Regions from separate parts of the Homo sapiens genome. Here region 2 is reported to be linked to region 1. Evidence: microRNA targets listed by miRTarBase, many of them from high-throughput screens and not tested one by one. Region 1 holds a microRNA gene; the other region holds the end of a gene's coding sequence.
What was found. The annotated mature microRNA hsa-miR-8071 reads CGGUGGACUGGAGUGGGUGG and lies in region 1 at 1,695-1,714, shown strand. An mRNA with a match to its seed (bases 2 to 7 or 8) in the 3' UTR can be bound and repressed. Matches are read on the target gene's strand: a 7mer-m8 pairs with bases 2 to 8, a 7mer-A1 pairs with bases 2 to 7 and ends in A, and an 8mer does both.

Region 1 (4,619 bases):
CCTCAACAGTGGCCGGCACAGACACAGCGGGTCCCATCCCGGGGACGCTGACCAGCGCTGGGCAACTTTTCCCTTCCCCGACGACTGAGCCCCGAGCACCCTCCCTGCTCCCCCTACCACCTCCCTTTACAAGGCTGTGGCCTCTGCACAGATGAAGGTGAGTCCAGGTCATGCCGGACTCTTTCTTCTGTTGCAATAGTTATTTCTGTTGAAAATCCGTCCTTGCTACATGACCTAGTGCCCAGGGGGATGCTGAGACAGGATGAATGTGTTTTGCATGTGAGAAGAACATGAATTTTGGGGGCCAGAGTCTGGACTGTGATGGGTTAAATCGTGGCCCCTACAAATTCATATATTCAAGTCTTAATCCCTGGCCTCACAATGTGACTATTTGGAGATGGGGTCTTTACAGAGGTCATTAAGTTCATAGGGGGTCACTAATCTAATCCGATGTGTGTTCTTATAAGAAGAGAAGCTTAGGACACGGGCACACAGAGGGATGGCCATGTGAGGACCAGGGAGGAGACGGTGTCTACAAGCCAAGGAGAGAGGGCTTGAGAGAAACCAGCCCTGCCTGCATCCTGATCTCAGATTCCTGGTCTCTAGGCCTGGGAGGATCCATGTCTGCTGTGGGAGCCGCCCCGCTGTGGTCCTGAGCTGACTCACACAGATCTGACACCCACCTCTCGCTTCGGACCATGGTTGGTTCTGGAAGGCCCTCCCTGTGGCTCTGCCTGGGCAGCCTGAGCCAGCTCCCAGCCTCGACCCAGCTTTCCCTGGAGGCCCTGTCCCCCGCAGAGTGACCAGGGCAGGCAGCACCGTGCCCAGCAGGAGGAGAAACTGCATCCATGTAGAAAAGAGGAGAAACCCCGGGGGTCCATGTAGCGACAGGGGCCAGGGAGGGTCGCTCGGGCAATGCGTGTGGCTGCAGGAGGCGGGGGGCGTATGCAGGGAGCCCCCGAGGTGCAGCTGGACCAGCCTCCTCCTGACCGTGCTTCCCACCGGGGGCAGGAGGCGCGTGGACACAGGAAGGCGGCTCCCATCACGAAGTACAAGACTTAAAAAGGATATTTTATTGTCATCACAAAAGAAACATCAAAGACAATTAATGAGCTTTAGAAAATTTAAAAGAAGAAGAAAAGCTACCAAAGCTGAAATGGTGGCACCTCCTTCGAGTGAGCCCGGGAGTCCTCCCTGACAGCTGAGGCAGGCGCTGGCCGCACTCCCGCTCGAGTCTCCCTGTCTGCGGATTCTGCGTGACAGTCACGGAACGGCGTGATGGGGGCAGCAGAGCGTGGGGGCCTCTGTCCAGCACTCGTGGCCAGCAGCCCCGCTTTCACAAGAACACGGGCACCCTCTTTGTCGTCTTGCCTCTCCACCTGGTGCCCCCAGAGTGGCTGCTTGTTCCTGCTGCACGTGACCCGGGGCTGGACGCCAGCCTCTGTGATGAGTTCTGGCTGTGTCCACGCTCCTGGCTCTCCCGGTGTCCCTCCACCTCTCTCCCCGATGCTCCTGGGCCTCCTCTGTCCTCAGGCCCCACCAAGGCTGAGTCTTGCCCGCCTGGGACCTGGTCACCAGCCTTCTCTGGGAGGCCTGTCTGGGCAGATGCCCAGCCCTTCCTTGGGCTATCCTCACCCTTGCACCGTGGGGCTCCTGCAGCGGCCACATGGCCCAGGCTCTTCTCCGAGTGATCTCGGTGGACTGGAGTGGGTGGTAGGTGGCAGTGTCCTGGGCCTGGCCCCTTCTCTCCCCAGTGCGGACTCTGGGGCTGGCTGTCCCTGCGGGTCGAGTTCCACCCGAGAATCCAGCAGTGTGGGCAGGCAGCCAAGGGGTGGTGCTGGCACTGAGACTGTTCCCAGGAGCCAGAGAGCAGCGTTCTTTGCTTGAAATCAGAACAACCTCATTCCTCATGTCAGGAGTTCACGGGAGTGCCTGGAATGGAGGCTGGCTGGCTGCGGGCTGGGAGGAAGGCCGTCTGAGTGAGCCTTCGCAGCTCTCGGAAGCCTCCCCAACAGGGCCTGATGGTGCTGTGACTTCCCTACCTTGGCGACTGATGCTCCCACTCACCATCTGGAAACCACGCCTGTGTTCAGGAGGCTGGCGTGGACAGGGTTGGCTCCAGGGCGAGGTCCTGCCTGAGTGGGGGCCTGGGATGCTGGTCACTACCTCCTTTTGTGTGAGCACCTGGCGGGCCGGAGGGCAGGGACGTCCTGCTGAGGGGACACTTGGCCCCCAGCGCCCTGCATGCACCAAGCAGCGGAGGTCTGGGGTAGACCTGCTATGCACAGGGTCTGGAAGGGGGGCGTGTCAGGGTCAGAGGGCGACTGCGAGGCCAGAGAGCCATGGGGTTGAGGGCGGTGAGGTCGGGGGCAGGTGTGGCCTGGGTGATGGCTGAGCATGGCCCACGGCTCCTGTGTGGGGTCTGGGCGGCCCTGGACACCCCACAGAGGGTGGCCCTAGGCCCCCTGCCTGATCATGTTCCTGTAGTCGGGGACGATGGTCTGCTTCAGGTCCACCACTGAGGAGAAGATCCACTTCACCTGTAGGCAAGGCACAGCACAGGGGTGAGCGAGGCCACAGCCCTGCCCCCAAGGCCCGCCCACCCCTCAGGCCACCCAGGTGCCACGGCCTCACCACTGCCTGCTCTGAGGCTTGAACTTGGAGAACAGAGCCAGGTCACCAACAGTATGTGGACAGCACAGACGACAGCATCAGGGACAGGTGGGGACAGTGTGGGGGACAGTGTCAGGGACAGGTGGAGACAGTGGGGGAGAGTGTTGGGGACAGGTGAGGACAGCATGGAGGAAAGTGTGAGGGACAGGGGACAGCATGGGGACAGTGACAGGGAGAGGTGGGGACAGTGTGGAGGACAGCATCAGGGACAGGTGGGGACAGCATGGGGGAGAGTGTCAGGGACAGGTGGAGAGAGTGTGGGGGAGAGTGTTGGGGACAGGTGAGGACAGCTTGGAGGAAAGTGTTGGGACAGGTGGGGGCAGCATGGGCGACAGTGACAGGGAGAGGTGGGGACAGTGTGGAGGACAGTGTCGGGGATAGGGGACAGGAGGAAACTGTGGGGGACATTGTTGGGGATGGGGGGATAGCGTGGGGGACAGTGTTGGGCACAGGTCAAGACAGCGCGGAGGAGAGTGTCCGGGACAGGTGGGGACAGCATGGGGGACAGTGTCAGGGACATGTGGGGACAGCATGGGGACAGTGTGTGACAGCATGGGGGACAATGTCAAGGACAGCTGGGGACAACGTGCGGCCAACCTTGAAGAAGGTGATGGTGGCACTGTAGCACACGCTTAGCAGGAAGAGTGTGATGAAGATGGTGATGGTGGTCCACAGCCCGTCCAGCTCCCCGTCCTGCGCCTCCGCACAGCTCTCCTCCAGTTGCAGCTCTGGACAGGAAGTGGGTGGTCAATACTGTGTCCTGCTGGGCTCGGGCCTCTGGGGGTGATTCCCTCTGTGGCAGGACCCAGGATGTAGGGCCCGGCCGGGATGGGCCAACAGTGTCCTGAGGTCAGCTCCCCACAGCTGCCTGCCCTGGGCACCAGCTTTGGCCCCGGGACTCAGCCAGACACCCAGCCCTAGATAGCGACCTGGCCCTCAGCAGGACCCGCTCCCCATCTCCTGTGTCCCTCCCTGAGGCCCAGAGGGCAGGAGGATGGTGAAGCCCACACCTCATGTGACCTCAGCTGCAGGGAAGGGCGGCATTGGGAAGTGGGCCAGTGCCAGGGACGCGACGTGGCGTGTGTTCCCCTGTGTGTGGGGGCCTGTGTGTGTGTGGCGGCTGCAGGGGCACCTTGTGAGAGGAGGGCTGGGTTTGTCTGAGCAGGTCAGCATGTGGAGAAGCTGCCGAGCGGCTCGTGGGCCTTGAGGTGCCGCGTGGGGCTCGTGGGGGCCTGTGTCTGAGGAGTGTTCACGTGTGCGAGGACCTTGCTCTGGTCTGGGTGCTGTGCGGTTCGCCCGGGTGAGGCTCCGTGTGTGAGGCGTGCACGTGTGTGTGTGGTGGCCGTGTGGCCGGCCAACCTCAGCGCGGGGTTTGTTGAACGGGTCTGGGCTGAGTGTGTGTGTGGGCATCTGGACCAGTCCCTCCACAGGGCCCGAGAGTGCATGTCCCCGGAGTCGGTTGTGTCCCCATGCGGGTGCGAGGCTGGGCAGGGCAGCCAGGGGTTAGTGCCGTGGGGGTAGATGGGTGAGGGAGGGCCTGTCCCTACGCACATGGACTAGGCATGCCCCCGAGTGGGCATGGAGGTCGGAGGACAGGGCGCTCACAGGACAGGACAGTCTCCTACAGAGGCAGGGGCTGTGTGTCTGTCCCCAGGGGCTCCTAGGGCTTCCCGTGGCCCAGCCCAGGGCAGCTGCTGCTGGAGGGAGGGCCACGCTGGCAAATCCCCCACCCTGCCGAGGGCAGCCCCTGGCTGAGCCCCACCCTAGGCGGCCCAGGCACACCTGCACAGCCTGGGCCAGTGTGGGGACAGTGGAACCCGCTCTGCCTCCCTCATGCCACTCAGGCCTCAGACTCGGCCTGACCCACGGAAAGAACCATCACAGTCTCGCAGGGGCCCAGGGCAGCGCTGGGTGCTTTATTTCCATGCTGGGTGCCCGGGAAGTAT
Region 2 (4,000 bases), not on the chromosome of region 1:
CTTTATTCTATACAGACCCGTCTCTGGCTACCCATGGCAGGACGATGACATCAGTGACATCATGTTTGTCACCACCTTCTTCTGCTGGCATGTGATGATCAATGCCTCATTCCTGTTGGGAATCTATGGCTTCTCTTCCTTTTGGTATCATTGTTTCAGACCCAGCTTGAAGCTGACTGGGCCCAAAGAAGCTCCATATTATGCAAGCACTCCAGGACCCCTCTACAAGTTGCTACAGGAAGTGGAGCAGTCAGAGAAAGAGGACCAGGCTCTCCTCCTTCCAAAGAGCTCCCCCTGAGACAGGGCCTACAGTGGCTGGCACATCGTCCACCTCATCTTCCTCCTGTTGGCTCCTCAGCCACGAGCATGGTACCCTCCTTGGTAAAGGTAATGGCCTTGAAGGCTAGCAGTTGGTCCCGTCTGCTGGTTCATTTTCTTTTCTTCTCTTTTCTTTTTTTTTTTTTTTGAGACAGAGTCTCGCTCTGTTGCCCAGCCTGGAGTGCAATGGCACAATCTCAGCTCAGTGCAACCTCCGCCTCCCGAGTTCAAGCGATTCTCCTGCCTCAGCCTCCCGAGTAGCTGCAATTACAGGAGCCTGCCACCATGCCCGTGCTGGTGCATTTTCTGTCCCTGAGCCTCTAATTACTGAGAAGATAAGGGGAGAGGGATTGAGAAAGAGACGCTGATGGGATTTGCGGGAGGGAGGGAAAAGGACGAGGAGAACACTTCTTCTTAGTGTGCAAGAAAAGCCACTGGGGGAAGAGAATGCAACAAAAGGAAGAGCTGTGAAGGGAGGAGAACAGAGTCTAGCAGTTATGCTGTCATTAGCGTCATCAGGCACAAGGGATTGCCTTTTACCTGAGGGAATAAAGACTTCTCACAACTCAAAACTGGACCCATTCAAATCTCATCTTGATAAAGAAAAGTGGGTACTTTACGTGCTCACCAAAGTGGTGCCACCATGTGGAAATAGCATGATAGAATTTATAATTAATTCATACAGGCTGAAATTATGCTCGCTTTGCCTCCTTCTCTCTCCGCAGCTTTCAAGAATTGGCTTCATTTCAAACTTTACATATAAAGTGAGACTTTTTAAATACTTAATAACATTTCAAATTTCCATAATTTAAATTTGTATAGAATTCAACTGCTATAGCATTTTTATAGCATTCAAATGCTTGGTACTTCCCTGACTTCTCATTTTATTACTCTTATTCTAGCCCAAACTTTCCTTTTCACCATGACCACCCTTGCACATGCAATTTAGCAGATACCATTCTTGGGTCTTTGCAAATTTCTTTTCCTTGCAAATCACAGCCAGTCATCCTACAGTCACATATTTACCATGTTATTCGATTCCCAGAATAAACCTACATCCACCCCCACACCGCACCAAGTATCCCCAAGGTGGCCTTCTCCAGAACTCTTACTGATTCCCTTGTTTTGGAACTCTTGGGCACTTACATTAAATCTGCTTTGTTAGTTTGCTCATACAGGTGACCCACTTTCTTTTATACTGCTGCTGAAATCATTTTCTTTCAGAAGGTTCTTCCTCACCCACTAAAGTACAGGCTCCTAAAGGGAAAAGACTTTGCCTTATCCAAGTTACCAAATTTCCTATGTATACTCCAGCTATGGATCATGGTTATGTTTAATAAAGCCTTCTTTGCTTCCAGAGTCTTCCCTAATCCTGTTTCTTCTAAATGTATTGCTGGACAGGTTGGAGGTTTTGTGAATCTCTCTGGGTGACAACAACAGTCCTGAACACTGAGTCACTGCCTTAGTAATGCACCCACTCTCTTCCTTGTTTTGGGGTATAATAAAATCCAGTAACTTGTTTCTGAAGTTGACTCTGTTATTGTTTTTAATCCTCACAAATGTTTCTATAAGGAGTCTCTAGAAAACTGAGACTCCAGCAGGTTGACTTGCCCAAGTCTCACAGTTGGTATGAGGCAACACAGGAATTTAAGTGCAGGTGTGTCTGACGCAAGTGTGACTGTGTCCTCTGGGCCACAGTGACTTTGCTAATGGCAATGGAGAAACAAGTTATCTCAAAATGAAAAAAATGAAATTGTGAAAGAAAGAAGAAAGACGGCTGGGCACTGTGGCTCACGCCTATAATCCCAGCACTTTGCGAGGCCAAGGCGGGCGGATCCCTTGAGGTCAGGAGTTCGAGACCAGCTTGGTCAACATGGTGAAACCCTGTCTCTACTAAATATACAAAAATTAGCTAGGTGTGGTGGCCCACACCTATAATCCCAGATACTTGGGAGGCTAAGGCAGGAGAATCACTTGAACCTGGGAGGCGGAGGTTGCAGTGAGCTGAGATTGCACTACTGCACCCTAGCCTGGGTGACAGAGTGAGACTATGTCTTAAAAAAAAAAGAAAAAAGAAAAGAAGGAAGGAAAGAAAGAAAGAAAGAAAGAAAGAAAGAAAGAAAGAAAGAAAGAAAGAAAGAAAGAAAAGAAAACAAGCCAGAAAGCCCAGGTAAAGCAAACAGCACAGTGTAAACACCCTAGACCTCCCTTAGGAGTGGGTTTATGCAACACTTTCTGTCCCCTACCCTGACCCCCATCTCCCCCGGGGGGTGAGAATCTGGCAGACTCTCAACTTCTGGCTGGGTCTTACATTTCTGGGCTCAGATCCAAAGCAAGAGCTGGGGATAAGACTTGTTTTTGACCAAGGCTTCTAAAGTTTGCCATTTCCCCTTTACTCTTGGTTCCTAGCCTTTTTTCAATTACTTTTCTTTGGGAGCCTTCCTTTTCTCTTTACCTCTCTTACACATTAATGGGAGGTGATGAAAAAGCACAAACACTTAGCTGCCTGTTTCCTGTAATGAGGCTTAATTCTATAACAATAAGCCTCTGGTAATCAAGTGATACCCCCCAACATAATAGCTTTCAAATATTCAGTGTAGGCAATAAGCCTGCATGTTATTAACTTACTAGATTTAAGATGTAACAGAAAGGTCCTCCCACTAAAGGCTACTCAAGAAAAAACTCAAAGCACTCAAGCTTTGGGGGAGTTTGTCATTCTCACAAAATTCCACAAGAGGGCACTAGGTTCACACCACCCCGGCCAAGCTTCTGATTCTCCAACCCCAGTAAACAAGTCTCCGGAGAACGGGTTTAAAAGAAGTGGAAGAGGAGAACGGACAGGAAAAATCCAGAAGCAGACTAAGAATTGCCCAAGCATCCAGAAAACATACCCTAGGGCTGTTTGTTTCCTGTTAAAATTTGGCGAGTCAATGTGAAATAAACAGGGATCCAAATTAACTAATGAGGTGGGAGGGGAGGGAGGAAGGGCTGTGGATCCCATTGAGGATTTCTTTGGGAATGGTACCAACTAAAGCACATACTCTGATCTAAATAATTTTTTGATCAGAATGCTAAATTCTCTAAATTTTTTAATTAGCTTCAATAATGTTCCAATCAATCTACAGAACAACGATCTGTACAGTGTAAATTGAGAATAAAGGACAAAATGTATCTAAAAAAACCCGATTCACAAAACAATGAAACTGGAGGCAGATTATCAGATGTGAAAAATGATCTCCAAAGAGTCCTTCAAAGAGAATCTTTCCTATGGTGTTGTTTTTTTCTGCTAATCTAGTTATTCACAAAGAAAATATATATTGAGTGTCTGCTATACAGAAGTCACTGGGTAAGCATACCCAGGATTGAGAGGTAAATGGTTGCTCCCTGTCCTCTGCACCTCCCTCAGTGAGGACTGTAGGAATTTCAGTATTTTAGAGATGGTGGCCCCGGAACAGATCACCCACAGACCAAAGCGACTAAAGGAAAGGGAACAGAAAAAGAACAGCACCTTGAAAGCTCATTAAGCTCTAAAATACTAACCAAACATGACTTCATCAAGTTACTATGAGTTATCTAAGCCTCAGTTCCTCATCTTTAAGATAGAATGATGTGAAGATCTAATTCTAGAATTGTATGGCTTTAATTTTCTCAATAGGACATTTTCCCCAGGTTGTTAACTAAG

Region 2: miRTarBase lists TEDDM1 as a target of hsa-miR-8071. Seed matches in the 3' UTR shown: 7mer-m8 at 326-332.

The regions. Positions count from the first base shown.
Region 1 is chr14:105,638,509-105,643,127 of GRCh38, forward strand. It overlaps MIR8071-2 (microRNA 8071-2), which reads left to right and starts at 1,660; the gene lies at 1,660-1,724. It also overlaps IGH.
Region 2 is chr1:182,395,962-182,399,961 of GRCh38, reverse strand. It overlaps TEDDM1 (transmembrane epididymal protein 1), which reads left to right. Exons shown (of 1, transcript NM_172000.4): 1 at 1-1,845. The coding sequence ends at 298. Among named protein-coding and RNA genes, the nearest start is that of TEDDM1, 2.7 kb to the left of the region's middle.